Linked DNA regions of Homo sapiens. The protein of the gene in region 5 purifies or fractionates together with the protein of the main gene of each other region. This does not show direct contact. Each region holds a gene or a part of one and is shown on either strand. Other genes may lie near its edges. The genes, in order: AGA, ASS1, ITM2C, MDH1, GSR, GBP2 and GOT1.

Region 1 (4,778 bases), on a different chromosome or scaffold from region 5:
ACATGGTGAAACCCCGTCTCTACTAAAAATATAAAAATTAGCTGGGCATGGTGGCACGTGCCTGTAATCCCAGCTACTTGGAAGGCTGAGGTAGGAGAATCACTTGAACCCAGGAGGCAGAGGTTGTCGGGAGCTGAGATCGCGCCATTGCACTCCAGCCTGGGTGACAAGAGCGAAACTCCGTCTCAAAACTTCCATTGCCTTCTTCTTAGAGATGAAGAAGTAAAGAGATTTAAAAGTTACTTATCCAGTTCAATAGATGTTAAGTAAAACAGCTGGAATTTGAACTTAGATCTGGTTTTATCCATGATTTTGTACTATTTTTCAGTGAAAACTATAGTCAAAAGACTAGAAAAAATTTCAGTGTAGTTAAAAAAATACCTGACTCTCCTACTAAAAGTGTGTGTGTTGTATGTTCCAGTACTTTCCGTGCCACACCAATAGCATTTTTAATTCGTCTGAGATCTCCTACTGCTCCTACATCCATAGTAGTGCTGCAAGAAAATAGAATGCAGTTAGGAATTAAGGAGTTTTCAGAGGTTCATAGATTAAAAACATTGCTTTTCTCCAATCAATAGTGTTTTGCGGTTAAACTCCACCATCTTAACACAGAAGTGACAGCACATCCACGAAGTTCATATAGATTCCCACAATCAGACAAAATTAAGGAAAAAAAATAGAAAATCAACTTGCCATGTACCACAACAGCACTAAAATTCTCAGTTTCTCCAAGCTAATTTTAAATATGGCTTTTGAAAGGGGCCTGAAGGCTTCAGGTCAGGCAAACCACAGCATTTGTGGACAGCAGATAAATGATTGTTTATAAGGTCAGAGACATAGTTTTTTAGCTTGGCATTCTCCCAGTTCTAAGGGACTACCTATCTCTCCATGTGATATTTCTATTACTCTGATTTTTTTTTTTCAGTTGAGAGGGAAACTGTGTTTAGAAAGGTCAAGTATAATAAGCTAGGGGTTTTGATCTGTGTCAAAACTCATGCATTCTTTCATCTTGCTCTCAGAAGACCACAACTCTAAATGTAACTCAACATAATAAATAGGACCTGAACGGTGTTCTTACCCATCCATGATCATGGCATCTAGTGTGGTTTCTCCAAGTTCATCAGGACTTCCTCCAAAGCCTACAGAGCCGTCACACTGCTCTCTCTCACACATGGCACAGCCGCTCTCCACTGCATCCAGGGCAGAGCCTCCAGATGCTAATGCCCTCCACGCTGTTAATCAAATCCCAATAATGCTTGTTTATATATATATTTTTTTTTCAATGCCAAATGCAACAAACCAACTCCAATTTAACAACTTTTTCACATTTACTGAGTTAAGCTGATTTTTTAACACATTAGTTTATCAAGTGTTACAAAGGAGTCAGTGAAGAGTCAAAATTATTTAACTAGTTATCAGAAGAACTCAAAAAACTGGCTATTGGTGCAAGCTGAAGGTTTTTTTTTTTTTCACTTACTAATATCTATCTCTTCTGTGTGCGAGAAACGAAATCAGTATCCCCTCCTTTATTTTAAAAGGTACAATCGAAACCACTAAAAGGCAGTTAAATAAAAAATCCACTAAACCGCAGCCTTCTTCACACATTTCTTCTGCATCATTAGATTAAAATATGCATAATTGATATGTGTATTGAGGTAACACCTATCCCAGGAAGTCTTAATAATACTGAACAGCAAACAATTACAACGTGGACTTCATATGGATTAGTTCATTGAGTCTTCATAACAGCTTCTGTGGTAGGTACTGTACAATCACGACCCTCATTTTAAAGAAAAGTAAACAGAGCCACAGGTCAGGCAGTTAGTTTAAGGTCACACAGCTGGTAAGTAGCAGAGCCAGGATCCCATACATTTGGGGGTGTGGGGGGAAGGGTCTTTGATGGACAATTTCTTTTCTGGTAACAACAGAATTCCTTGAAGAGTGGGTGCTCTGGTTGGTAAACACTACAGCACCTACAGGCTTGAAAGTGTATTTACGCAAGTTCCCTCTTTCAATACAGGCAACTTAAACACAGAACTGTCCCCCGCCCAGGCTGATGCAATTTCTTTTCGTCTCATTATGGCTGGGAATATCTTTCTCACAGCCTGCTTCTTCATTTTCTCTGAATCGTATGCACTGCCACCAAATTCTGGAGCCAATTCTGCCCTAGAAAGTTAATACGTTAGCAACCTCAGATGGAGGAGGAGGGGTCTGAAAATGACTCTTCTGGTCATTAAGCAAATGAAAGAAACAAGCATAGTACAATGCGAAAATGCCAAGATAATGGTACGTAAAGGCTATTAACAAGGTGTAGAAGGCAGGAACCTAACTCATTCTGGACACGAGGGCAGTTAAGTCAGGGAACGCTTCCTGGAAGAGGTGATACCTTAGCTTAGTGGTTCTCAACCCTGTCTGCAAATCGAAATCACCTAGGGAGCTTTTTAAAGAAAAACAGTGGCCCTGATTCCAGCAGTTAGATCACAGTCACAGGAGGTGGGCCCCGGCAGGATGATTTTTGAGAAGCTCCCCAGATAGTGTGAATGTACAGCAAAGGTTGGAACCTTGAATTCTAAGTGGCAGGTAAAGTATGACAACACGTGGCAAAAAAAGTAAATGGGAAAAGAGTAGGCTATGGCTGGGACACTATTAGTCGTCTACAAAATTGCAAAGAAGTGAAGGATTAGAAACGAGAGGTGGAGACGTACACAGCCCGTGAAAAGACTGTCAGGCAGAAAAGCGTAGCTGCTACTTGATTAAAGCACAAAGGCCATAACTATGGTCAGCAGCAGGGTGGAAAATACATTGCGCTGGGGGCTGCATGAAGGGAGGACCTAAAATGCAACAGCGGTAGGTGGGGAGGATGCAGTAAAGGCCACTTGCAAGAGACTGAGCGGCGCTGGAGACTCGGGAAGACCTAGAGGGCGGGACCGCGAGGCCCGGCCCAGCCCGGCGCTCTTCCGTCCGCCCTGCCGGGTGACTGCAGCGGGGCGGGCTAGTCATCCCCACCCGCAAGCTCTCGCGGCGCAGCCGCCCGCCCAGGCCGCCAACCCGCACCTGCTTCGGTTGCATTCTTAAAGGGCCAAGTGTTGACGACCAGGGGCAGAGGGCTGGAGCAGCGCACTAGGGCCTGGCAGAGCAGAAACGGCACGAGAAGCACAGGCAAGTTCGACTTCCGCGCCATCCCTGACCACCGAAGAGACCAGCGCGAGAAAAGTCCCGGCAGCCAGCGATCGCCGAACAATTAATCCCCAGTGCCCCGCCCGCCTGGCGCCCACGCCCGCTCTCTCGGGGGTTCGCTCAGGCGTCCCTCAACTCTCGCGAGACGAGGCGTCCCTGGGCCCGCGGGAGAGTTGTGTCACGGGGCACTGAGCTGTTCCCTGCGCTAAGGTGCTTCTTCCTAAGTGCTGTTCAGATTTTTAAAATAGCCAGACAAGTTGCTGCTTTTCCTGTGGTTAAAATAGATTTAGCTTGATATTGGGAATTTAATACAAAATTATTCAACTCTGGGTTGCAGGGCCCCAGGAACTTTAGCCGATTGCTGTGTACTATGGATTTGGTTCTTTTACTGTCTTTTTAATTTAAAGTTGAAGTTGAAAAGTTTGTCAAACTCAGTATATTCTTGGGGATCCCAGGCCTCGGAGGTCTGCAATAGTTATGAGTGTAGGTGAAGCGTGTTTGCTTAGGACCGGATTGATTTTAGATTTTTTTTCCATTCATAGCGTCCGTCATTTTCGCACCACAGCTTTTTGTAGCACTTCCTCTCATTATAAATCCCTGAGCTGGAAGAAAAACAGAAACGGCCTATGTACCCTCTACCTAGCACACTGAAGTGCAGCTTCCTGCACCTCCAGGGCAAGACGGCTACCTCCATTCCTTTTTAAATGTATTTTTACCTTCCTGCCTGGCACTATTAAGTGCTAAATAAATGAATAAGAGGAGGAATGGGGATTTTACGTGCTTGGTGGAGGCTGCTCAGTTTTGTTGCTGGGCAGACGTGCGAACATGAACTAATAATCCCTTTGGGTGTCTGGAATGCCTGCCCAGGTTGCCAAGGCAAGACACATAATCACATAATTTTTAAAAGCATCTATAAATCTATACAAACTTTAAAAATATGAACTAGGCTGGGCACGATGGCTCACGCCTGTAATCCCAACACTTTGGGATGCTGAGGTGGGTGGATCACGAGGTCAGGAGTTCGAGACCAGCCTGGCCAACATAGTGAAACCCGTCTCTACTAAAAATACAAAAATTAGCCGGGCGTGGTGGTGCATGCCTGTAGTCCCAACTACTTGGGAGGCTGAGGCAGAATTGCTTGAAGCCGGGAGGTGGAGATTGTGGTGAGCCGAGATCGCACCACTTCACTCCAGCCTGGACAACAGAGTGAGATTCTGTCTCAAAAATAAATAAATAAATAAATGTAAAAATATAAACTAGGTAGGAGTTGTGAGACTTACAAAACCTTCAAGGCTCTTATTGATTGCTAGGAAATTAAATACATAATTTAAAGAACATAAGATAGCCCAGAAGTATCATTATCCCGTTGGGGAAGTGTTAATTAAAAGATATAATAAAGACAAATTTTCTAAGTTCCTTTCATGGGGTTTGGAAGAGGAACAAGTCATCTGTGCTGGAGTAATCATAACCCAATGGCAGGTGAAACTGGAAACTTGGGTGAAACAGGGTAAGAAAGCCAGAAAAACATACATTGTCCTCTGAGTAAATTTTCCTTAGCTCCTGGGCTGAGTATTTTTATGCAGCCTTAAGGAATTAGGACA
Region 2 (4,858 bases), on a different chromosome or scaffold from region 5:
GAGGGTTTGAGCCAGAGCTTCAGACACTGGATTCTAGCTCCGCTCTGCCACTCACATGCTGTGTGGCCTTGGGAAAGATACACCGTCATTCTGTGCAGCAGGTTTCTGCCCATACCATTGAGATAACAATCACAGGTACTTCATACAGGGTAGTCGTGAAGGTGAAAACAGAATGCTTGCTCTTTCCAGGGCGACCCTACCAATGAGAAAACAGGCTGCAGTGGGGAGTGACCGCCCCAAGGACACACAACTGCTGCAAGGGTGTCATTGTGTAGGTGTTCCTCACTTGCCTCCTGCTAGTGTGGGAGGCCCAGAGACTCCACGAGACCCCCAGCTGCTCCTGTGAGAGGGCTGAGGGGGGCCAGCTGTGATACCGCCTCCCATCTAGAAGGGGCCTCAAGCCACCCATGTACACCCAGCCCCACGTGGCTCACCAGGGGCCCCTTTGCCATCAAGGGCCACATCCCAGGTTTAAGTGTCAGAGAACTAAGGGGCTTAAGAGAGAATCGAGCTGTGGCTTTGTTTGTGAATTGGTTTGATCCTTTTTTCCTTCTAGAAGGACTCACAGCTACTGTTGCTTGCCATGGGCTTGAGGGGGTGGTGGGGGCTGACTGGCAGAGGGGCTGAGAGTGGATGGTGATTAAAAGGAGCACTGACTCCAGGGTAGCGGCTGGGCAAGGCTTGGGGCTCCCACCTCCCCCAGGTTCAGAGCCGGCTGAGGACCGGGAGTCCTCCCTTCTGGGGTCAGTGCTCACTATGGAGCAACTGCCTTGGATGGGGTCCCAGGACTTGCTCTTTTACTGGGGCTGTGGTTGCAGTGATCAGGGCTTTGGAGCCGGCAGACCAAGCTGGGAAACTCCTGAGGTAGAGAAGCTGTTGAAGGCGGGCCTGGGGTCACAACTCCCAGCTGCTTTTTACAAGCAAGAGACTTCTCTCTGAACCTCAACCTTCCCTCCTGTCTAGTGGGTTCGCAGCCAGACAGTCTTTTACTCACTGCTTACTGGGTGCCCTCTGGAGTCTGGGCAGGTGCCAGGCTCTGAGAAGACAGGCCAGCAATCAGCCCTGGCCTAAGGGATGAAAGCCGGGCCTTCCCGCGCCGGCTCACCTCGGTTTTCTCATCCTTACTCGGCTACCAGAGGCTATGGTTGGGGAGGGAGGGGGCTCTGGGGGCTGCAGAAGGCCCAGGCTGCCGGCACCGGATAGAAGTGAGCACGAAGCTCCCTGCGCCAGTGGAACTTTTATCCCGGCTCCCACCGCGAAGCGTTTAAATTGCTTCCCCAGGGCCAGGAGGCAAGTCTCTCGAAGGACGGCTGCGGCCACCCTCCGCCCCTGAGTTACATGGGTCGCAGCCACTGCCGCCCTCCTTGGCGCCTCCAGCCCGCGGGCCAGGGCCAGGAACCGCGAGCCGCCTGCGCCCCCGCCGGCGCGCCCCTGGGAGGGTGAGCCGGCGCCGGGCCCAGGCCCGGACCTGGTGGGAGGCGGGGGGAGGTGGGGACGAGGCCTGGGGAGGCGGGCCCCGCCCATCTGCAGGTGGCTGTGAACGCTGAGCGGCTCCAGGCGGGGGCCGGGCCCGGGGGCGGGGTCTGTGGCGCGCGTCCCCGCCACGTGTCCCCGGTCACCGGCCCTGCCCCCGGGCCCTGTGCTTATAACCTGGGATGGGCACCCCTGCCAGTCCTGCTCTGCCGCCTGCCACCGCTGCCCGAGCCCGGTAAGGAGCCCTCGGCCCCTCTCGCTGCCCACTCCCTAGCCGAGAGCACCCGCTTCCCGGGCCCAGAGGAGGAGGCGTAGAAGACGCCCGCCCCGGGGCCCGCGGAGGCAGAGGGCGGACCCCGATCGCCACTCGCCGGGGACTGGGACCGAGGCAGGAGGGAAGGGGCTCCCGATGCTCAAACGCCTGGCACCGGATTCCAGGTTTCTGGAGCGTGGGGGACGCGGCGGGGGCGCGAGTCCCCGGGGGCGCGAGTCCCCGGGTCCGAAGAGCGGCTCGGGTTATTTGTTCCCTGCGCAGCCGGGTCCTTTCTGGACTCCTTGTCGGATCCGGCTTCCTCTGTGTCGTGAAGCCCCCACATGGAGACCTGGGGAGTCCGGAGCGTGTGGGGGGGCTCCCGATTCTCTCTCCCTCTCTCGGACTCGCCGTCTGTCTCCACCTCTATTTCTCTGCGTAAAACCAGGAGTCCAGCCCCTCTGGGGCTTGGACGTATCGCTTTCCCCGCAGCCTCAGTTTACCCTGGACAGATGGGCATGGTGGCCCTGGCTCCCTTCCCTGCAGGGGGCGGCAGCCACCTGGCCCTCCCCGGTGGGGCTGGCGGCCTCGCGGCGGGGTTTCCTGCTGGCCTGGGCTGGGCTCTGTGGGAGGGGCAGTGCCAGGAATATTTTCTATTCGGGCTGCTGTTGCCTTTGGCCCCTGGGCGGCTGCGCCCTCCAGGGAGGCAGGGTCATTGTGAAAGAGAGGAAACTCCTCTCCCAGGCGGCCAGGGCTGTTCCTGAGGAGGGCTGGCCTGGCCTCAGTATTCTTCTCTGAGAAGTGGAGAGTCCACTCCCGAGCAGCCGAGTCAGGCTGCAGGTCTCAGGGCAGGAACAGACCTGTTCTCTCCCCAGGGGTAGATCAAGACCTAGGGGACTTGGGCTTTGATCCTCCCGCTCCCAGCAAGCACAAACCCAGTGATGGGGAGAGCTGGTGAGGCCTTGGCTCAGCCTCCAGATTCCCAAGCTTCCTTTTCATTTTCTTTTCTTTCTAAAAATTTATCAGAGATGTGGACTCGTCATGTTGCCCAGGCTGGCCTCGAGCTCCTGGGCTCAAGCGACCCTCCTCCCTCGGGCCTCCTAAACTGCTAGGATTACAGGCTCGAGCCACCCAAAGTGCCTGGCCCCCAAGCTTCAGTCTGTTAGAGCTGGCTGGGGCTGAGGGCTCAGGAAACATTTGCAGATACTGTGCGGCTGCTAAGGGCTCTGTAGACTGTTGGGTGCTGGGCCTGGGTCCAATTGCACAATAACTGTGCCTGGGGTTAGGTTCTGATGAGAGGGAGGGAGAAGCAGCCACACGGACTGGGAAGCTTGGCTAGGAGCAGGAACTGGAGGAGTCTCCATTCCAAACTCCCTCTCCCTCCCAGACCCCTTAGGCCCAAGGCCTAGGGCGGGGAAGTTTGGGGGTGGGGGCGGGACCCTGTCCTGGCGGGGCCATCTGTGCACCATGCTGAGAAGTAATTCTGGTTCTGCTCTGTGGGGGTGGATCAAGTGAATGAATAGTGACTCCTGCCTGCTGAGCGCCTGGCCGGTGCGGGGGCAGACACGTCGTGAGAGGGAAGGGGAGGCCCCACTCTCAGCACAGTCTCCATTCCTGAGTGCTTGGGAAGCAGGCCCAGGGCCGCAGGAGCCTTGGGGTGGAGCCAGGCCCAAAACAGCCTGCTGCACAAGCGCTTCCCCCTCCCAACCCGGGCCCATCTCATCTTTGGCCTGCTGGGAGGCCAGCCAGGTCAACCAGATGCCTCATCTGAGCACTGACTACACAGTCCCTGAAGTCAGTGGCTTGCCTGTGGGCACCAGGCACCCATGTGGAAAGAGGTAACTTCGCTGGAATTCAGAGTCTAAGGCTCTGATTTCTGATGTAGCTTTGGGCAAAGTTGATCTTCCAGGGCGTGGCTCCCTCCCCAGACTTGGGGTCGACCAGGCACCCATAGGCACTTTGATATGAGTGGAACGAATGAATGAATGTGCCCTTCGTCCATCACCAAAGACAAACCGAGCTCAGCTGAGTTAGAATGTCAGCGAGGGGTTGCAGGGGAATCTTCCACGGGGCAGTAGGCCTGAGCTATAGCACACAGGCTCTCCAGAGAAATAGTGGGCAGGTTGGCCATGACTCACTGGGGGGCTGGTTTTCTGGAAGGTGTGTAGAGTGAAGGGGAGATCTGAGGTCTCCTAGGAGCCAGGGAGTGGAAGGCCTAGTGCAGGGAAGAGCAAGTGGCCTGCAGTCAGGCTGGGTTTGAAGCCGCTAGCTTGTGACCTCGGCTGGCCGCTTAGCCTCTGCCTCCTCCTTTGTAAATAGGTGGTAATGGCAGTCTCCACCTTGAGAGGATGCACCTGTGACTGTGAACATAGTAGCCGCTCTTGTTGTCATTCCAGCTCTGACGTTTTCAAGTAGCACGAGTTTTCCTTAGTGTCAAGTGAGCGCCCAGGCTGGCCTGTTTGCTGGAAGCTGGACAGATGGCTGTGGCTGGGGCCACAGAGAATGCCATCCCAATGAAAGCCAGGTGGCTCTGGTACCTTGACGCGAGGCCACCTTCCCTCCTCCCAGGTGTCTCTTCCGGGGAAGGAGGGCTGGAGGGCAGTGGGCATTTGCCAGGGAGCTGGAGAAACCTGCCGTGGCCCTTTCTGGGGGATGTGGTGGGGGTGGAGCTGGGACTAGGGGAGGCTGAATTCAGCCAGGATCTGCCTGCCAGGCGCAGCTCCCAGGAAGAAAGCCCAATGTCTGGGAGGGTCAGAACCCAGAGGGCTGTCAGGTTGTACAGATGAGGAAATTGAGGCTTAGCAAGCCAGGAACTTGGCTGAGGTCAGCCATAGCAGCGGTGCACAGAGCTTAGTGGGCACATACATGCTTGGTGCCCAGCTCTGGGCTCCTTCCCCCAGCATCTCACCCAATCCTTACAGTCGCCCTGTGGGGAGCAGGCTGTTTGCACCCCTATTTTGCAGCTGAGCAGTTATGCTAGAGAGCTGAAGCCACTCAAACCCATGTCTGGTGGACTTGACCTCTGTCCTGTGCCTGGAGTGAGCGCTCACTGGATTGCAGCTGTGGTTCCTTCTCTCCCTGTCACTTCCTCCCCCGACATCAAACCCTCAGTTTCATTTAGTTTTTGCCTCGGGC
Region 3 (3,077 bases), on a different chromosome or scaffold from region 5:
CACAGGAGCCCCCCATGCTGCGATGACGCATCCTCCCTGGAGAACTTGCACTGAATCAAACAGACGGTGGAATCCTGCCGATCCCAGGCCAGGCAGTCCCAAGCATGTATCTACAGGCCCCTCCAGGAGCCCCCTCCAGAAGTAAGAGTGGGCAGACTGGCCCGCCCGGCCATTCAGTTGATGGGATCACACCAGGCTGCCTGGCCTCCCTTACTGATGGAGTGACTGGACTGGCCCACCAGACACAGTGTCTGTCAAGGTTTCTCCAAGACAGGGGTCAGGGATATCCAGGAAGGGCGATGGCACTTGTCCGAGGCTGGATGTGGAGGTAACCGTGATAGGGGCACAAGACTCTTAACAGTGTTGCCTCCAGCTCCACCTCCCCACCCGCCGTGTTAGGCCCCTCCAGGTCTGCAGGCCAGGACAGCAGGTGACAGGAAAGGCAGTCGTGCACAGGCGTAGGTGCCCAACTCTTAGGTTCGTCCTTGACCCCCTGCCAACCCCAGGCTCTTTCTCTGGTGTCTGCACCTCTGTGGAGGGCACGGAGGTGGCCAGGTCCTAGTCCTGCTGGGCCACCCCTTTTCCCAGTCACCGACTCAAGGACTTGGAGGCCAGAAGGGACCTTAGGGATCATCATGCTTTACTGATGGGGAAACTGAGGCCCAGAGAGGTCTGCCACCTAGAACCTGGCAGACCCAGCTCATCCTCCCTTCCGTTTGTGAAGCTGGGAAGCGCCTTGCCCAAGAATCAGCTCATCTCCTCACTGGCAGCCCCAGACCCTGACCTGATGCCCCACCGTCTCAGTTTCTCCATCTGCGAAATGGGTCTCACAGTCCCTGCTCTTCTTGCTTCCGCAGGCTTTTGGGGCATGTAGCGGACGGGTAGGCAAGAGGGGGCCTTACGGAGTGCGTGTATGACCAGCCTCTCTGACTGTCTGTCTGTCTCTCCGCCTTGCTCAGCTGGCCCGAGATAACTTCTTCCGCTGTGGTGTGCTGTATGAGGACTCCCTGTCCTCCCAGGTCCGGACTCAGATGGAGCTGGAAGAGGATGTGAAAATCTACCTCGACGAGAACTACGAGCGCATCAACGTGCCTGTGCCCCAGTTTGGCGGCGGTGACCCTGCAGACATCATCCATGACTTCCAGCGGGTGAGGCTGGCCAGGGCCTGGGGGTGGGGGGTGGGAGGGTGTCCCGGGGACTCAGGGCAAGGGGAGCAGGGATGAAAGGAGACTCCTCGGAGTACAGCAGGTGTCTACGGTTAGGCTTACCAGGGTCTTCAAGACACTGCTTTTCTCCTGTTAGCAACAATGGTTCTTGCTGAGTATGAAGCAGCCGAGGCTGATTTTCTCCTCAGCCTCCTGCCAGCTGCACGCTGGCTGTCATGGCAGGGCCAGTGCGTTGTATCGAGGGGTAGTACATTCACCATCGAGTGCATTGCGTGTACAGCTCAGCGGGTCTCTGCAGAGTGGGTCTCATGCGTATTCATGTAACCCCCATGGGTCCTGAGACAGGGCATCTCTCGCTGGGGTCCAGGCTGTCCCAGGAATGGCTGGCCCTCACAGGTTTCATAAATGCACAGCTGGGATGTTACCATGTTCCCCAAACCTCAGCTCTGTAAACATGAGAAGAAGCTTTATAACAACAGAGGCGTTTAGCAATCAGCTGCTATTTTCCTCTATCATGTGGCACCTTCTACAACAGGCTAAGAGAAGACCAGGAAAAGGGAGTGCCCGCCCAGGTATTGAGGAGTCTGGAGAGGACTCTGCTCCTGAAGGCCCAGGGTCCCAGGAAGGCATGGTGGGACTCCTGCCCCTGCTGGCCAAGCTGCTTTTTTTTTTGGAGACAGAGTCTCGCTCTGTCGCCCAGGCTGGAGTGCAGTGGCACGATCTCGGCTCACTGCAAGCTCCGCCTCCTGGGTTCACACCATTCTCCCGCCTCAGCCCCCCGAGTAGCTGGGACTACAGGTGCCCACCACCACGCCTGGCAAATTTTTTGTATTTTTAGTAGAGACGGGGTTTCACCATGTTAGTCAGGATGGTCTCGATCTCCTGACCTTTGATCCGCCCGCCTCAGCCTCCCAAAGTGCTGGGATTACAGGCATGAGCCACCGCGCCTGGCTGGCCAAAGCTTCTTGCAGCCCTGCCTGGGTCAGCTGTCACCTCCTGCAGAGACTGACCCAACCCCTTCTCCTGCCAGGGTCTGACTGCGTACCATGATATCTCCCTGGACAAGTGCTATGTCATCGAACTCAACACCACCATTGTGCTGCCCCCTCGCAACTTCTGGGAGCTCCTCATGAACGTGAAGGTGCGCAGGGGGTTGGGGGGATGTCTGCAGCATCCTGTCCCTCCCTTGCCCCCTGTCTCATGGAGGCTAGGTCTGAGGTACAGGAAGTTCCTGTGTCAGGGGTTGGGGGAGCAAGAGACATTGCTGGCACCTGGGCCCTGTACCCAGATTGGTCTCGCCTCTGCTATCCCCCTGCTTCCACATCTCCAGAGTCAATGCCCCGAGACCGGCTTCCTTAGTGTTCAAGGTTGTACCCTGGGTACGGACTCGTGCGCATGCCATTGCTCCTGGCAGCACAGGTGCAGGCACCGGGCACAGGCAGGAAGTGCCTGAGGACATCAGAAGGGCCAGCCCAGGGGCCTCTGGAGGAGGGAGGTGGGCTGGCATTTCGGGCGAGGGGTTGGACGAAAGCCTGAGGGGCCGACTCACTGTGGCGGCCACCTTGTTTTGCAGAGGGGGACCTACCTGCCGCAGACGTACATCATCCAGGAGGAGATGGTGGTCACGGAGCATGTCAGTGACAAGGAGGCCCTGGGGTCCTTCATCTACCACCTGTGCAACGGGAAAGACACCTACCGGCTCCGGCGCCGGGCAACGCGGAGGCGTGAGTGGCTGGCTTCACCCACAGTAGCCCCTGTCCCGTGCCCCAGACCACAGTTATCTTCACGCCTAGCCCAGCTGTCAGAGAGCTCAGATAGCAGCAGCAATAACAGCTAGCATTAGCAGAGCACTTCCGTGTGCCGGGCAATGCTGTGTGCTCTTTATGACCTCTTAAGAGTGTAAGTCATTCT
Region 4 (4,174 bases), on a different chromosome or scaffold from region 5:
TTTCTTTTTTGGGGGACAGGGTCCCGTTCTGTTGCCTGGTGGAGGGGTACTGTCATGGTTCACTGCAGCCTTGATCTCCTAAGCTCAAGTGATCCTCCTACCTCAGCCTCTCAAGAACCTAGGACCACAGATGTGTGCCACCATGCCCGGCTAATTATTTTATTTTTGCAGAGAGGGGGTCTCACTATGTTGCCCCGGCTGGTCTTGAACTCCTGGGCTCAAGCAATCTTGCCACCTTGCCCTTCCAAAGTGTTGGGATTATAGGCGTGAGCCACTGTGCCTGGCCAATAATACCATTCTTAAGAGAAACATATAACTACTTCCTCAAAGAAGGGAAATAGCTCCAAAATACCTTACCTTGATTACAACAGGGAATGAGTAGAGCAGATCATCAGGAACACCATAGGAGTTGCCATCAGAGATAACACCCATGGACACAAACTCTCCCTGAAAATAACAATGTTTCACATACTCATGATGATTAGTTTACACAACTGACACATGAACTAATAAAATTAAACCAGGTGACCCTTTCTTACTATGTTCATAACATCATTACTGTGTAAGGAACTATCATCAGCACCAGGTACTGGTGACAAGGTAACTTTCATGGATATTATTTCATTCCACGCTTCCATATCATATGTGAAGTAGGCCAGGGAAACCTAATCCTCATTTTACAGATGAGGAAGCTGTGGCATAGAAGAAAAAAATTCACCCCTACTATGTATCAGGCATTGTGCCAGGTGTTTTCCATGTGCAATCTCCTTTAACCCTCACAACCCTGTGTATAATAGTAATGTCATGTAAAAGATGACAAAACAGCTCAGAAAGGTCAAGGCTAACAAACCCCGAAGTTTACTTGTTAATAGGCAGCTGAGCTGAGAAATGAACCTAACCTGACTGACTGCTAAGGCTATATTCTTTTTATATTATATCATCAGGCAACAAAAATAAAATAGAGTGACCTGTGCAAATCACTAAATCCTTACCTCTGGGGTTCCAAACCAGATGTCCCTGACGTGGTCACAGATGGCTTTTGCAGCAGACATGGCACTGGATAGTTTTCGAGCCTTGATGACAGCAGCGCCACGCTGCTGCACAGTCTGGGAAGGGGGCAGGTGAAGGCAGCAGTATTACTTGGTCATGATAGCAAAGTTTTCATTAATTCCAAGTCGACCTTGGGGTGAAAAGCTATGACCAGAGCTTAATGTTTCCCCTCCAAAATCATGCAACAACCCAATGTCAGCCTTACCAATCCTTCTGGAAAAAGGAAACTATGTATCTCCATACAAAGTTTATCATAGGTCAGACAAAGACATGGATCTTGGTATAAATCTCAACTGCTGTCACATCAGATCACACTAGATCATGACTGGCTTACTATGATCCCGAAAGTATGCAGTCATCAGAGCAACTGTGAAAGACCTGCCCTCTTTAAGGTTTTCTGTCCTAAGAGTCTCTCAAGAGTTCTTTACGCTCAGTGTTAAGAAGGCTCACAGATTTTTCTTACCGTGACAAATTCTCCCTTGAGCCAGCTGTCATCTTTCAGAGCTTCATAAACACCAACTTCCTTTCCTTGCAATTTCACCTTGGCATGGTTGACATCTGGATACTGAGTCGAGGAATGGTTTCCCCAGATAATGACATTCTTTACATCATTAGCAGTCACACCAAGTTTAAGAGCAATCTAGTTAAATTGAAAACAAATACATTACTGAGACAAATGGTTTTTATTTCCAATTGGGACCTGTTTTGACAAATGCCCTTAAATAAAGATAAAAAGCTTCTGAAATTTCAAGAGAACACAAGAGTTATATTGACTTGTAAAAAATGTAAATTTATTGCTTGGCAATTTCCTACAACAGCTTAACAGTGGTAACAACTGTGGACTTGAAACCTTATGGAGTAGAATGTTTAAGGGTATGAAGCATCCCATAGTTTGTGGTTAACTTATTAGTACAGTAGGTGTATCAAACATAAAACATTAATCGTTACTATTATTTATCAATTTACTATTTCTTGAATATGTAAATGTGATCTTTTGTTTCACTGTTAATGTTTACTTGGAGATGTCTTCTCAGTGCTTCTGAGTAATCAGGTATTTAGGCACTTTATATTTAGGTAAAATTTTTATTATATACCATATAGAAATTAATTTTCAAATAACCCTAAATATGAAATTTTAGAGTTGGATAGGACTCAAATTACCAAGATATGACTGTCCTCATTTTATATATCAGGAAACTGAAGGAAAGAGGTTTTATATATGTGTATGTGTGTGTGTGTACACACATATATACACTCTAAAATTATAACATATGTAACAATCTCTAGCTATAACTCCAGAAAGCACTTTAGGGTCCTGCAATGCCTTGCAATCACATGTAGTACAGTAGCCACAAAAAAGGTTAGAAAGTTATGTCTTGGGCTGGGCATGGTGGCTTACGCCTGTAATCCCAGCACTTTGGGAGGCCAAGGCGGGCAGATCACCTGAGGTTGACAGTTCGAGACCAGCCTGACCAACATGGAGAAACCCTGTCTCTACTAAAAATACAAAGTTAGCCGGGCTTGGTGGCACATGTCTGTAATCCCAGCTACTTGGGAGGCTGAGGCAGGAGAATCGCTTGAACCTGGGAGGCGGAGGTTGCGGTGAGCCAAGATCGCACCACTGCACTCCAGCATGGGCGATGCAGCGAGACTGTCTCAAAAAAAAAAAAAAAAAAAAAAGAAATGTCTTGGTAGATTTAAATAAAATCAGCCTGCTTGTTATTTGTCTGATAAGTTTATGTGCAGAAAATAAATTATGATCAGGTATATGTATAATTTGTTCCTAACTAGACAACAGAATTTATGATGAACCAGAAGGGAATGTGGAAAAATATTTTAAGAAGCTGATCTGTTTTGGTGACATTGTGGGCAATTCTTCCTTCCTCTGTGTCCCAAAAAGAATGGGAGAAGAAACTAGTTGTGCCAGAGTCTGTAGCTTTAGCACACATAAATAAAGCATTTGAGTATTTACCATGTAAGAAAAGGAATACACTTTGATATTTTAAGGAAAATTTTAAAATAAGGGTAATAACAGCTCCAAACTGAAACAACTCAAATGTCGTTCAAGAATGGTTAAATATGCCAGGCGCGGTGGCTCACACCTATAATCCCAGCACTTTGGGAGGCCGAGGTGGGAGGATCAGGAGGTCGAGATGGAGACCATCATGGCCAACACGGTGAAGCCCCGTCTCTACTAAAAATACAAAAATTAGCTGGGTGTGGCAGCGTGTGCCTGTAATCCCAGCTACTCAGGAGGCTGAGGCAGGAGAATCTCTTGAACCTGGGAGGCGGAGGTTGCAGTGAGCCGAGATCGTGCCATTGCACTCCAGCCTAGGCGACAGGGCGAGACTCTGTCTCAAAAAAAAAAAAAAAAAAAAAAAAAAAAAAAAAAAAAAAAAAAGAACGGTTAAATAAACTGTATTATGTCTTACATAGGCAATGGAATAAATAAAAGGGGTAAGTGGAAAAACAACAAAAAGAAACAAACAACAACCTGGATGGATCTTAAAGGCATTAAACTGAGTGAAAAAGAGCCAGTCTCAAAAGGTTCCTTACTGCATGATTCCACTTTTGTAAATTCTCAAAATGACAAAATTATAGAGGTGGAGTGCAGAAAAATGATGTCAGGGACAGAGGGTGGTGTGACCATAAGGGAGAGTATGAAGGAGTTCTTTTGTGAGTGATGAAGAAATTCTGTACCTTGACTATGGGGGCAGTTACAGGAATCTACACTTGTAATTAAATGTCATAGAATCATTCATAAAGACACAGAAAAAAATAAGTGAATATAAAACTGGTGAAACTTCAGTAAGTCTAGTTAATAGTATTGTGTAGTTCATCAACTTCCTGGTTTTGATAATACTCTGTAGTTATGTAAGGTACCATCAATGGGTGATGGGTACATGGGCCTTCTCTGTACTATTTTTTTGCGACTTTTGAGTCTAAAATTATTTCAAAATAAAAAGCAAAAAAAAAAAAAAAAAAAAACCCCAACCAACCAACCGAAAAGGATAAAGATGAAAAAAAAGGCCATTACCTAAAATGTCTGCAATGACTCGACTGGTCTTCATACTAATTTATTCAGTTAAGTAAGAAGTAAACTGTCTTTACTTTCACTCCCACT
Region 5 (4,174 bases):
GAGACATGTCCCTTCCCTTAAGGAATTTTGTGGTTGTGAAAGAAAAAAATATTGGAACCCCAAAGTATGCCAGAAGGAAAGTTCAGCTTGGGAACTGAATCACACAAATACTGCTTTTCCTTTTGTTCCCAAACAGACAGCTGTAATTTCACAATCCCATGTCATAGCCTTATCTCCTCTACTCCTGCTTTTCACTTTTACTTTATCTTATGTAAAATGTAGATTTACTGAGGCTCATAAGAACCTCACAAGAATGTAACCATCTAGGCTGGGCGTGATGGCTCACGCCAGCACTTTGGGAGGCCAAGGTGGGCAGATCACCTGAGGTCAGGAGTTCGAGACCAGCCTGGCCAACACGGTGAAACTCCGTCTCTACTAAAAATACAAAAATTAGCCGGGTGTGGTGGCACATGCTACTTGGGAGGCTGAGGCATGAGAATCACTTGAGCCCAGGAGGCAGAGGTTGCAGTGAGCCAAGATCATGCCTCTGCACTCCAGTGTGGGCAACAGAGTGAGACTCTGTCTCAAAAAAAAAAAAAAAAAAAAAAGGTGGGGGGTTGGGTAGTATTCTTTGACATTCGGAACCTCAAAAGATGGGTCCCAGGCCTAGGCATCAAAACGGGATATGTTGTGTAATCAAATTTGGAGCACAGAGTGTCTCTTTAATAGAAATAAGAGATGAGAAGCTGATGGGTAGGTTGTGGTTTGAAAAATGTGGAGTTTCTGGACACACAGTGAACTATGGGGGCAGGGGTGGGTTTGAGCAAACCAGTGACTCAGTGAAAGTAGTTTTGTGGTAAGCCATAGGATTGAGATCTCACCCTTGGCGATGCCCAATAGAAGTTTGTCTTTCTGTCTTTTTCTTTTTCTTTTCCTTTCAGTTTATAGAGATAGGGTCTCACTACATTGCCTAGGCTGGTATTGAACTCCTGGACTCAAGCAATCCTCCTGCTTTGGTCTCCGAAAGTGTTAGGATTACAGGCGTGAGCCACTGTGCACGGCAGAAGTTTAAGATTGGTTCTCCCATGAGTTCTTTCCTAAATAAAATCCATTAATTTCTAACGCTTGGGGAAGTTTTAAAGTTGTGGTGAATGAACTCACACGGAAGGTTCAAATTAGAATGTGTGTCTAGCAGTGGTCATTTACAGGTAGTGAGATTGGTTGGTTTTTCATTGTTTTATCAGTGTTCCTTCATTTAATTGTTCAACCGTTAAAGTTTATGGGAGGCCATTGTTTTGGACCAGTCTCCTGTACTAGGTCCCAGCAGACCTGGGTGTGTGTGTGTGTGTGTGTGTGTGTGTGTGTGTGTTTGTTGCTCTGTCACCCAGGCTGGAGTGCAGTGGGGTGATCTCGGCTCACTGCAACCTCCGTCTCCTGGGTTCAAGGAATTCATGTGCCTCAGCCTCGTAAGTAGCTGGGACTACAGGCGCAGGCCACCACGCCTGGCAAATTTTTTGTATTTTTAGTAGAGATGAGGTTTCACCATGTTGGCCAGGCTGATCCCGAACTCCTGACCTAAAGTGATCCACCCGCCTCAGCCTCCCAAAGTGCTGGGATTACAAGTATGAGCCACCGCGTCTGGCATGTTGTTTCATTTTTAAGAGACAGGGTCTCCCTCTGTTTCCCAGGCTGGAGGGCAGTGGTGTGATCTCAGCTCACTGTAGCCTCAAACTCCTGGGCTCAAGCGATCCTCCCACCTCAACCTCCCGACTAGCTGGTTCTGCAGGTAGATACCACTGAGCCTTGCTTGAATTCAGCATTTCAAGTCTCCAAAAGGTTAAGTATATTGCTTATCTCATGATCTCGTGTAGACTGGAGAGAAATGCAAAGATCGCCCAAAGTCAAGGTGAATTAGAGCCTTCTGGGAGCTTTGCCTCTGTGGTTCGCTTCTCTGCCTACACACGTGATGGGAGAGTCAGCTTAAGGAAAAGTTGTTTCTAAATTGCTGCTCCCTTTGCCCCAGGGCCTGGGGAACTTGCGGTCCTGGGTTCCTGCTGAGTGTACTGATTCTGTGATAAGAATAACCAGGTTCCTGTGGTTTTGGCGAGTAGTACTTACCAATGAGAGTTGGGTAGTAAGGGTTGATCATGTGACAAAAGTTCATGATTGCCAAGTCACAGTGAACTATGCTGCACAGCAGCAGTTGGAGAGGCCTAGGGGAGAGAGAGGTAGGGGCTTTGAAAGATCAGTGAACAGCAGGCTGCTCAGTGAATCATTGTTCATCTAGGCTGAAAACAATTACCCAGCAACATGTAAATCATAACCTCATTTGGAAGTGATACTGTGTACTTTGATATTATGATGTCTATACCCTGGTAAAGCTGAACACTGGACATGCTTTTTTTTTTTTTTTTTTTTTTTGAGACAGGGTCTCATTGTGTCACCCAGGCTGGAGTGCAGGGGCATGATCATAGCTCACTGCAACCTTGAACTCCCAAGCTCAAGTGACCCTCCCACCTCAGCCTCCCCAGTAGTCAGGACCACAGGCACATGGCCACCACCATGCCCTGGCTGATTTTTTAAATTTTTAGTAGAGACAAGGTCTTGCTTTGTTGCCCAGGCTGGTCTCGAACTCCTGAGCTCAAGCAGTCCTCCCACCTTAGCCTCTCAAAGTGCTGGGATTACAGGCATGAGCCACCGTGCCCAGCCTGAACATGCATTATTAAATGCAATTTACTAAAAGGAGGTCAGTTTAAAGGAACTCTGTCATCAGTTCCTGCAATATTGACAGATAGCCCTCCGAAATAGAAGGTTACCCTAATGTGTCTCCTGGGTTTAGAATTTCATAGAATGGGGCCCACCCATATTCATAAGTGACAAATAAAGGAGTGGCCATAAAGGGTGGGGCTAGTTAAAGCAAGCAAATGCTATTGTTGAAATTTGGCTTTTAACTTACCTTGTTGACTGCTTCCTTTTTTTGTACTAGTCTTCATATACTGTTGCTTTGCCATCTGCCTCAAAACCCACTAAATCTGCAGGGCTAGGAAAAGATAGACTGCCTCTGAATCCTTCAGGGTGTCTATTTCTTTGTAAAACATACTTTGAAAAGTAACCACAGAGAATGCTTTTTTTTTTTTTTGAGACAGAGTCTGGCTGTCACCCAGGCTGGAATGTAGTGGTACCATCTTGGCTCACTGTAACCTCTGCCTCCCGGGTTCAAGCGATTCTCCTGCCCAGCCTCCTGAGTAGCTGGGACTACAGGCGTGTGCCACTACACCCAGCTAATTTTTTTTTTGTAGAGACGAGGTTTCACCACGTTGGCCAGGCTGGTCTCGAACTCCTGACCTCAACCGATCCACCCACCTCGGCCTTCCAAAGTGCTGGGATTATAGAAATGAGCCACCGTGTCTGTCCAAGAATCCAAGAACTTTTTTTATAGAGGGAAACTAAAGGAATGATATGGAAATACTGATACCCTTTGGCTTTTTTTTTTTCTTCTTGACACGAAGTCTCACTCTGTCACCCTGGCTGGAGTGCAGTGGCACGATCTTGGCTCACGGCAACCTCCACCTCCCAAGTTCAAGTGATTCTCCTACCTCAGCCTCCTGAGTAGCTGGGATTACAGGTGCCCGCCACCACACCTGGCTAATTTTTTTATATTTTTAGTAGAGACTGAGTTTTGCCATGTTGGCCAAGCTGGTCTCAAACTCCTGACTTCAAGTGATCCGCCCACCTTGGCCTCCCAAAGTGCTGGGATTACAGGCCTGAACCACCATGCCCGGACCACTTTGGCATTTGTAAGTGGCTTCCAGTCAGTGAGAATTCATTACCTTCTATTCACTAGGTGTTGCAACATTAAATATTACTGCAGTTACTTTTGCACCAGCCTAATAGGATGTGGAGGTCCTAGGTCCTTTTCTTTTTGGGGGACGGGAGATGGTGGGTATCAGGTAATAGTGGGGACTGACATCCAGAAGAGTTGTCTCACAAAACTCTTTCTTCTTCTCCCCGGATGCCCGTAACAATTATTTTTATTTTTTAAATTTTTTTGTTTTTTGAGGCAGGGTCTCACTCTGTCGCCCAGGCTGGAGTGCAGTGGCACGATCATGGCTCACTGCAGCCTCAATATCCTGGGTTCAGATGATCCTCCTGCCTCAGCTTCCCAACTGGCTGAGACTACAGGCTGTTATTTGTGGTGATGGGGTCTCGCTGTGTTGTCCAGGCTCCTCTCAAA
Region 6 (4,174 bases), on a different chromosome or scaffold from region 5:
AAAAAATTGAGATGGAATTCTGGTCTGTCACCCAAGCTGAAGTGCAGGGCATGATCATAGCTCACCATAGCCTTGAACTCCTGTGCTCATGCTGGGTCCTCCTGCCTCAGCCTCCTGAGTAGCTAGGACTCTGGGCAAGCACCACTGCACTTGGCTGATTTTTAATTTTTTCATAATGATGAGGTCTTGCTACTTTTCCCAGGCTGGTCTTAAACTTAAACTCCTGGGCTCAAGGAATTCTCCCACCTTGGCCTCCCAAAATGCTGGGATTACAGGCATTAGCCTCCTGTGTTCTATTTTCTTGAAGTTGCAAAGTTCTATCCTGCCCTATGCATTTCCACATTACATTATTTGCTATAAAGCTATTCCTCTATATGCTTTGGTTAGCTCTTAACCATTTATTTAATATATATATATATTGGAGACAGGGTCTCACTCTGTCTCCCAGGCTGGAGTGCGGTGGTGCAGTCTCCGCTCACTGCAACCTCTGCCTCCCAGGCTCAAGTGATCCTTCAGACTCAGCCAGCTGAGTAGCTGGGATTACAGGTGTTAGCCACCATGCCTGATTAATTTTTGTGTTTTTAGTAGAGGAAGGGTTTCCCCATGTTGCCCAGGCTGGTCTCAAACTCCTGAGCTCAAAGTGATTCACCCACCTCAGCCCCCCAAAGTTCTGGGATTATAGGCATTAGCCACCGTGCCCAGCCAACTCAATCATTTTTAAGTTCTCATCTTACAGGTGACTTTCACAGACAAGCATTCTCTCACACTCTAAATTATATCTCCCTGCCTCTCCCTTTACTCTTTCATAGCAGCCTATTATTTTTATGCATTGTGTTAACCACTATTTATCATTATACTTTTTTTTTTTTTTACTTTTTACAGAAGTATCTTTTGCTCCTATTATGCTGGAATGAGGATAAAAGTCACATTTCTTTTATCCATCATTATACTCAGTGGTTGGTACATTACATTATAGGCATTCCCTAAATATTTTAGAATTGCTGAACAAGAGAATTGTACTGCAGTTAGTTAGTGGCAAAGTCTCACTTACATATAGTATTTGCTTTTTTCTTTGTTGCTCAGTATATATATCCTGGATGTTTATTTGATAAAGAGGGAGCTGAGAAGTTGGTGGAGAAGTTTACCATAATAGAATTCAATTCTAGTTCTTTTCTTTTTTTATTCTCCTTGCAAGGAATATGAGATGATACTATAGCTTTAGTTTTCATGTAAAATTTATAATATGATTTTCATGTTGTATTTTCCTTGCCATCAATAGACTATGCATTTGTCAGAAGTGACCCTTATGCTTTCCATTTTATCCTCTACAATGGGCAGAAGGAGAAAGTCCAGGTAGGAAGTGGGTAGAGAGAGTGACTCACGAGGCCCATTGACTGGAATGCCACCTGAAAGAGTCTTGACATTGGAATGGCTGAGGATGTAGGAACAAAATTCTGCAACTTGTTCTATGAAATCAGGGTTCAGCTCTTCCTCCTTTAGCTGCTCTAGGTGAGCAAGGTACTTCTTAGGAGCGGGCCAATCGAAGACGAAGCACTTCCTCTTGGGGAAGAACTTTCGGATGCACAACCGAGGATCATTAAAGCTTTTACTTTTCTTATCAGTACCTACAGGAATGAAAATTAGAAGTAGTAAAACTTCAAATTAATTACTTCAAATATGATCTTTCAATTTTATAATTTTCACAAAGCCCATGTAAGGAGGAAATTTATTAGGAAGAAGAAATAAAAAATTAAAGGGGTAGAGAAAGGAAAGTCTCCAAGAAGAGGTAGGTAATGCAATTTAAAATTGGTTCCAACTGATATAGTCAAGCAATGTTTCCATTTCCTCTAGCAGAACAGTCAGAAAAATACAGTTAAAAATTATAATTTTTAGCACTGCACAGAAATGGTTATTTTGATATTATTTGCTCTCTATTTATTACCCAACCAAGCATCAGACCCAGTAACCTTTTCTTAGCTTTAGCGAAAGCTCCAAGTAGTCATCAGCAGTGATGGGTTCTCCATCTACTTCCAGTTCCAGGGTGAAATCTCTGAGAGTCCACACAAATGCTGGAAAAAAGCTCACAAAGTCAGCTGAGTCGTCTACAGAATTGTTACCAGGTGAGGAGTTTGCCTTGATTCGATCTGTCAGCTCTGTCACATAGCTGAGATGCTAAATTAAGAAAACTACAGAAAATGCCACTCTTTATACTACATTTTATCCTAATGCTTACCTAAAATAATTTGGTTTCTTTTTATTAGCTCATTCATTCATTCACAAACATTTATTTACAGAATTCATTCACTCACAAACATTTATTGAGCACCTACTATGAACCAAGCACTGCCCTAGGGACTAAGAACGCTGTAATGAATGAGACAATGCTACCACTATAGAGCTTACATTCTAATGATGGAGACAAACAATGAACAGGTAAACAAAAATAAATTATCAGGTATTGATAACAATTGTCTTGAAGGAAAACGAACTGGGCAACTAGCTCCTAATGTATTTTTAGAAACTAGCAACCAATAGACATTCATCTAATACTCTGGTGTCTCCCAAATCTACCAATAAGGAAAGCAGAGAATAATTGTGTGTATCTGCATGTGGTGCTGGTTCATGTAGTTTTCCAGGTAAATTATCTCTGACATTGTAGTTGAGCAGTGATCTGAATGAATTGAAGAAACCAGTCATGTACAAATCCAATGGAGGAACATTGCAGACAGAGATCACAGACCCTTCAAGGCCCTTAGATAGGAAATTACTGAGTGTGTACAACATATATCAAGAAATCCAGTGTGGTAGGGCAGAAGCCTTAAAATAAATAGAGGTTGGGATATGCAAGCTCTGTAAACCAAAGTAAGAAGTTTGAAATTTAATAGAAAGTTAATGGGAAGTCATTGGTGGGTATTAAGTGAAGAGAGGATATAGTATCGTTTTTTGTTTTTTAAATCATACTGGCTGGCATTGCATCTGTGAGTCAAGTGTGTATGCCAAAACAAACAAACAAACAAAACTAATACAAAAAGCAATTAGGTAGTTGAAAAGATAACCAAGATGAGAGGCAATGGAGCAAGTAGTGAGAATTGGCTAGTCTAGAGAAATAACTTTGATAGTGGAGCTGAAGGAGTTTGATGATTAATAATTTCCAAAACATAAGGAATGGAATCATCCAAGATGATTCCTAAGTTTTTGATCTGAGCACTTCTATGAATGATGTGGGAATTTATTGTGATTAGAAAGACTGGGAAGGAGTTGTTTTGGACAGGAAAATTAAGTTTTGTTCTGTACACTTTAGGCTCAAGATGTCTCTTACACATCTGAATGGAGATGTTGCACCAGAAGCTGGATACAAAAGTTTGAATTTGCTCATGCTTGGGAATACAGATTTGATGGTGATAAACATATTGGTGCTACTGAAAGCCTTGAAGCTGGATGTGATCATCTGGGGACTGAAAGCAGAAAAAGAAAAGAGGCACAAGAACTTAAGTGTTATAATATTTAGAGGCTAAAAGGAGAAAGAGGATAGAGTAATCTGAAAAAGTCTACCAATAAGGAAGGTGGAAAATTAGGAAATGTGGTATTCTAATAGGAACCAATTCCAAGTGAAACAGGCATTTCAGAAAGGTGGAAGGGATCAAATTTATGTAATGCTCCTAGAGAAATAAAAGGCTTATGGAAGATTGGAAGATCAAATGAGGTGAGAACTGTGCATTACATATAGGAATATGGGGGTGATCTTGATGAAATCTAATTCAGTATAATGCTTGAAACTAAGCTAATGGAAATGGTGAGGTCATTGATAATGAACTAGGTTAAGTAATGTGTGAGAGTGGAGAATGACAATAAGGGTGGAGAGTTCCAATAAGGTGATGGAACTGAGACACCAGGGTGTTAAATAATTGTCTATTGGTTGCTAGTCTCTAAAAAGACACTAGGAACTAAAATCTTTAATGAATGAAGGATGTATTTATTGGAACGTTGCTAGATAATTGCAACAAAAATAGTGGTGTAGTCTGAGGGCATATATATTAAAGAAGATTCTCTTTTTAATGGTAAAGGAATGAGAAAGTGTCCAGAACTCTAATATGGAGCAAGGAGGATACCTAACTCATCTCTTACACTTATGATATGCAAGGTATGGGATTAAAAATAGTCATCACATAAGACC
Region 7 (4,174 bases), on a different chromosome or scaffold from region 5:
TCAGCTGTGAAGGTGCCTTTGTCATGTTTTCCAGGAACTCCAACTCCTTACCATGAGCAAATTATTTATGCATGTAATCTCACTGAATGCTCACAACTCTGGAGGGTGGTTTATTACTATTACTGTTTAGAGGCAAGGAAGCCGAAGACTGGAGAGGTGAAGCAATTTGCCCCAGGTCATTTGACCACTGGGTGGTAGAGCTGGGAATCCAGGCCAGGTCTCTCAGGCCTCAGAGTCTCTGCCCACACCTGTATTTCAGGTACCTCCAGGTGGTAGCCAGTACACTGTAGTGGGAAGAGCCAGGAGACCTAGGTACAGGCCCAGCACCGTGGTCCAGCCATGTGACTTGGAAGGGTTGTTTAACATCCCTGGGGCTCATCTGTTAAATGAGGAGCCAAGATTGAATGACCTCTCTCCCAAATTCTACTCTTAAGATTCTACTGGGCCAGGCATGGTGGCTCACGCCTGTAATCCCAACGCTTTGGGAGGCCGAGGCGGGCGGATCACGAGGTCAGGAGATTGAGACCATCCTGGCTAACACGGTGAAACCCCGTCTCTACTAAAAATACAAAAAAATTAGCAGGGCGTGGTGGCGGGCGCCTGCAGTCCCAGCTACACGGGAGGCTGAGGCAGGAGAATGGCGTGAACCCAGGAGGCGGAGCTTGCAGTGAGCTGAGATCGCGCCACTGCACTCCAGCCTGGGCAACAGAGTGAGACTCCGTCTCAAAAATAAATAAATAAATAAATAAATAAAAAAGATTCTACTGTACTAAAAGTCAACTCCACAATTCACTAGCACATTCTATGACTGTAGCGTAGGATAATAATTTTACTGGCCTCATCAGTTGTCTGAGGATTAAATGAATAATTATATGTGAAATGTGATATATAAATGAAAAGTGTCATATATAAGTGTTATTTTTGATCATCACTGTGACCCGTCTTTTTGTGGATAGCAGGTGTTTGGATAAGGATCTAATTAGAGTAGAATAAAAGGTCTCCTTCCAGCCGTTATATGTCCTAGTCTTATTTATACACATCCCCAAGTATACCCCTTGTGAAGAAAATGTAATTAATCATTGACCTTAGGGAAGATACTTTTTTTCCCCCAAGTTAATATAAAACCTAATGGAGGTTATCTAGTTAATGTTCCAGTGATTTTGGACACGTTTAGAATAAACTGCACCTGTAATCTCAGACAGTTCCTACTTGCAGCTAGTTTCCTCAGTTTTTCTTCTTGCTGTGATGATTTAAATAATTTCCTTATAGGTAAACAGAGGAGAGTATCACATTTTCCACTGCTAAGCACAATGCTTTCTAAGTTGATCATTTTAGTGCTTCTCAAAGCTTCAGACTGAAGTGGTTTTAAGGACATGGGAAATGGATCCAACCTGGTGCAACCTGTAGCAAGAAGTTTCTTCAAAGACTCCAGTCCATTTTTTCATGTGAGCCTAGCTTTCTTTTGGCCCAGATAAACTCTGCTAGCTTTAATATTTCTTATTTTCAACATGGTTTCCTAGCATCTTCAAATAAAATAGTTGGGAAAATATGCTTTATCAGATGTTTCTGAGTACCCCTAGCCTTCTCCCCAGTATCCTAATAGGCTCTTGAGTGGGGATAGGTGAGGGAAGTGGCGATCTTAGGAGGAAGATGAGGGTGATGGTTTGACCATTTAAATCTGTGTTCTTTCTTCCTTTCCTTCTGCAAAGCAAGACTGCTGGGCCCACCTGTAGACTGTGTGACTCCCCTAAAAGGGTTTATGTCCAGGAAGAAGAGCAGTGGGGCATGGAGCTGGGGAGCATGCTGATAAAAAGGCCCCTGACATGGTCCCAGGGGCCTGCTTGCTTCAGGCTTTCTCTAGACATCTCTTGCTTTTAAAAAAGCACATGGATCCATGAACTTAATAGTATGACAGCCTAGCTCTTGTTATCTCTGTGATCCTGGGCAAATGGTTTGACTTTTCTGGCTGCAGCAGCCAGATCCTTAAAATAGACATCACAATATCTATTTTGTGGGTTGCTATCCAAATTAAATGAGAGTAAAGAAATGTATTTAGTGCAGTACCTTGTATGTACAAAGTATTTAGTAAATCCGTGTTGTTATTTCTCTGCCCTCAGGTTCCGTCAATGTCTTTCTCCATGCCCCAGACCTCATCTCTGAATGTCAGGCCTACAGTGGACACATCCTACAACTCCCTCAAATTCAGCATGTTCAAAGCACAGCTCATCATTTCCACCTTCCCCTTGATCTTTTCTTCTATCTTCCCCTTGTGTTCTAGGTCTTGGTCGACCCCACTACCACCATCCACTCATTATCCAGACTTGAGGGAGACCTTGGAGTCAACAGCAGCCCTTTCCCCAATCCCCTGTCTTTTTATTTGGTCAATAGGTTCTGTCTTTTCTACCTCGAATCTATTTCCAATGGCACCCCTTTTCTTCATCCCTGCTGCCATTGTGTGAATTCAAGGCCTCATTATTTCGCTTCTGGAATATTGCAGTAGCTTTCTACTCCTTCTACTTCTAGTAACTCACCCTTCTTAACTACTGTCTCTGTCCTTCTCTCTGGTTTATTTTCTGTGGTGTCACTCAAATGATCCCATTAAAATGTGCAGCTGCTCATGTTACTCTCTTGCTTAAATGCTTTCAGTGGTTACCCATTGAAACTGAAGTTCCCTAAAAGAGACTCCAGGATTCTTTTAGCCACTCCCAGCTAATCCTTAGTGGATTCCACATCAGAGTCATGAAAATGCAGATCCTCAAAGACCTCATGCTCCCCAGGCCTCTGGGGCCTTGCACAGGTGTGCCCTCTCGCATGCCCTTCTTCCCTTGTTTACCTTTTAAACTCTTATTCATCTTTCATTCTTCATTCTCTGTAAAATCTTCTCTGATTCCTCAAATTAGAATTAAAGGCTCTATCTATGCTCTGTGTTTCTTGGAGGGCAGATGGGATCTTATTTTATCAATCTCTATAGCTTCTACTAGCCAGTGCCTGGCTCATGGTGAGACTTAGTAAGTACTTGTTATGTGAGCGAGTGAATGAAAGAGTGAATGAGAAACTCAAGGGTCCAACAAATAGGAATAAAAATTCTTGGGGACAGCAGGAATAGTGGTTGTTGTTAATGCCTGACCCCACTGCTCCAGTCACCCAAGAGGAATCTGGTTCTGCTTCACTAGGGCAGTTAGGAGAGGCATCAGGAACAAATCTAGAACTCAACCTGGGAAAAACTGGGCAATGGAGAAGGAAGGGGAGTTGTAAATTGGCCAGTTTTTTTTTAGTCACAGTATAGACACAATGCCTCTCCAACCATCCCCAACCCAAGTAGTAGTATTGGAATTTTAGAGTTTCACAGAGTATTCAGTAGTGGTAAGAACAGCAGTATTCCAGTCTTTTCTTTCTCTTTCATATTTTATTTATTCATAGCACATTATTTGTGAATGACATATTATCATAAATATAAACACATAGCCTAATAATGTTATAGAATAGATATAACACCCAGACACAGAACTGAAACATAACAGAACTGGTTTTTCTATAAACATCCCAAATTTTTTTGCATCTACCTAGTATCCTTTGTAGGTAGTTCAAATATGCTTTTCTTGTTCCAAGATTTCTAGAAACCCCTTTTAGACTAGCTATCAAGGCATGTAGGACCCACACAAGGGATCATTTTTTAAAATAATTGTTCTCCGTAAGTTTTACCCAGCTTATTCACTCACTCTTTTCAATGGAGATGATGCAAATGCTATTCCCGAAAAATAATTGACTTTCAAAGGACAAAGATTTGGCACTATTGAGGCTATTCAAAATAATGAGATGTTGCCTCTAGAAACAATTCCAAAAGAAGTTTCAAGAATATTTTGAACAATGGTAACGTTGTGATCATAGATATGTTGATGTGCTTTAGGGACAACTCTTACTTGGAAGTAGCTATTTTGGTACATCTTTAGAGAAGCCAGACCAAATCCCAGCTGGCGAAGGAGGCTTTTTGAACTTGTTGAGAAGTTTGGTGGACTAAGGGGTATATCATGAATGGTATGAGAGTATTGTGAGTTGGGCCAGGCATGGTGGCTCACTCCTGTAATCCCAGCACTTTGGAAGTCCGAGGCGGGAGGTTTGCTTGAGCCCAGGAGTTTGAGACCAGCCTGGGCAACAAAGTGAGGCCCTGTTTCTA

Evidence for each region.
Region 1: the proteins of GSR (region 5) and AGA fractionate together in Homo sapiens (co-fractionation; one large-scale study listed by BioGRID). This does not show direct contact.
Region 2: the proteins of GSR (region 5) and ASS1 fractionate together in Homo sapiens (co-fractionation; one large-scale study listed by BioGRID). This does not show direct contact.
Region 3: the proteins of GSR (region 5) and ITM2C purify together in Homo sapiens (co-immunoprecipitation; one large-scale study listed by IntAct). This does not show direct contact.
Region 4: the proteins of GSR (region 5) and MDH1 fractionate together in Homo sapiens (co-fractionation; one large-scale study listed by BioGRID). This does not show direct contact.
Region 6: the proteins of GSR (region 5) and GBP2 fractionate together in Homo sapiens (co-fractionation; one large-scale study listed by BioGRID). This does not show direct contact.
Region 7: the proteins of GSR (region 5) and GOT1 fractionate together in Homo sapiens (co-fractionation; one large-scale study listed by BioGRID). This does not show direct contact.

The regions. Positions count from the first base shown.
Region 1 is NC_000004.12:177,439,195-177,443,972, forward strand, and holds the start of AGA (N(4)-(beta-N-acetylglucosaminyl)-L-asparaginase isoform 1 preproprotein), read right to left. Parts: upstream 3,244-4,778; 5' UTR 3,182-3,243; coding exon 3,055-3,181; intron 1,233-3,054; coding exon 1,079-1,232; intron 495-1,078; coding exon 382-494; intron 1-381. UniProt on the Homo sapiens protein: Cleaves the GlcNAc-Asn bond which joins oligosaccharides to the peptide of asparagine-linked glycoproteins.
Region 2 is NC_000009.12:130,443,288-130,448,145, forward strand, and holds the start of ASS1 (argininosuccinate synthase), read left to right. Parts: upstream 1-1,673; 5' UTR 1,674-1,708; intron 1,709-4,858. UniProt on the Homo sapiens protein: One of the enzymes of the urea cycle, the metabolic pathway transforming neurotoxic amonia produced by protein catabolism into inocuous urea in the liver of ureotelic animals.
Region 3 is NC_000002.12:230,874,661-230,877,737, forward strand, and holds part of ITM2C (integral membrane protein 2C), read left to right. Parts: intron 1-959; coding exon 960-1,148; intron 1,149-2,196; coding exon 2,197-2,307; intron 2,308-2,739; coding exon 2,740-2,890; intron 2,891-3,077. UniProt on the Homo sapiens protein: Negative regulator of amyloid-beta peptide production. May inhibit the processing of APP by blocking its access to alpha- and beta-secretase.
Region 4 is NC_000002.12:63,602,212-63,606,385, reverse strand, and holds part of MDH1 (malate dehydrogenase, cytoplasmic), read right to left. Parts: intron 1,691-4,174; coding exon 1,514-1,690; intron 1,107-1,513; coding exon 993-1,106; intron 448-992; coding exon 358-447; intron 1-357. UniProt on the Homo sapiens protein: Catalyzes the reduction of aromatic alpha-keto acids in the presence of NADH. Plays essential roles in the malate-aspartate shuttle and the tricarboxylic acid cycle, important in mitochondrial NADH supply for oxidative phosphorylation.
Region 5 is NC_000008.11:30,720,919-30,725,092, reverse strand, and holds part of GSR (glutathione reductase, mitochondrial isoform 1 precursor), read left to right. Parts: intron 1-4,174. UniProt on the Homo sapiens protein: Catalyzes the reduction of glutathione disulfide (GSSG) to reduced glutathione (GSH). Constitutes the major mechanism to maintain a high GSH:GSSG ratio in the cytosol.
Region 6 is NC_000001.11:89,115,610-89,119,783, forward strand, and holds part of GBP2 (guanylate-binding protein 2), read right to left. Parts: exon of another isoform or gene 3,302-4,174; intron 2,434-3,301; exon of another isoform or gene 2,169-2,433; intron 2,165-2,168; coding exon 1,968-2,164; intron 1,626-1,967; coding exon 1,383-1,625; intron 1-1,382.
Region 7 is NC_000010.11:99,423,838-99,428,011, reverse strand, and holds part of GOT1 (aspartate aminotransferase, cytoplasmic), read left to right. Parts: intron 1-4,174. UniProt on the Homo sapiens protein: Biosynthesis of L-glutamate from L-aspartate or L-cysteine. Important regulator of levels of glutamate, the major excitatory neurotransmitter of the vertebrate central nervous system. Acts as a scavenger of glutamate in brain neuroprotection.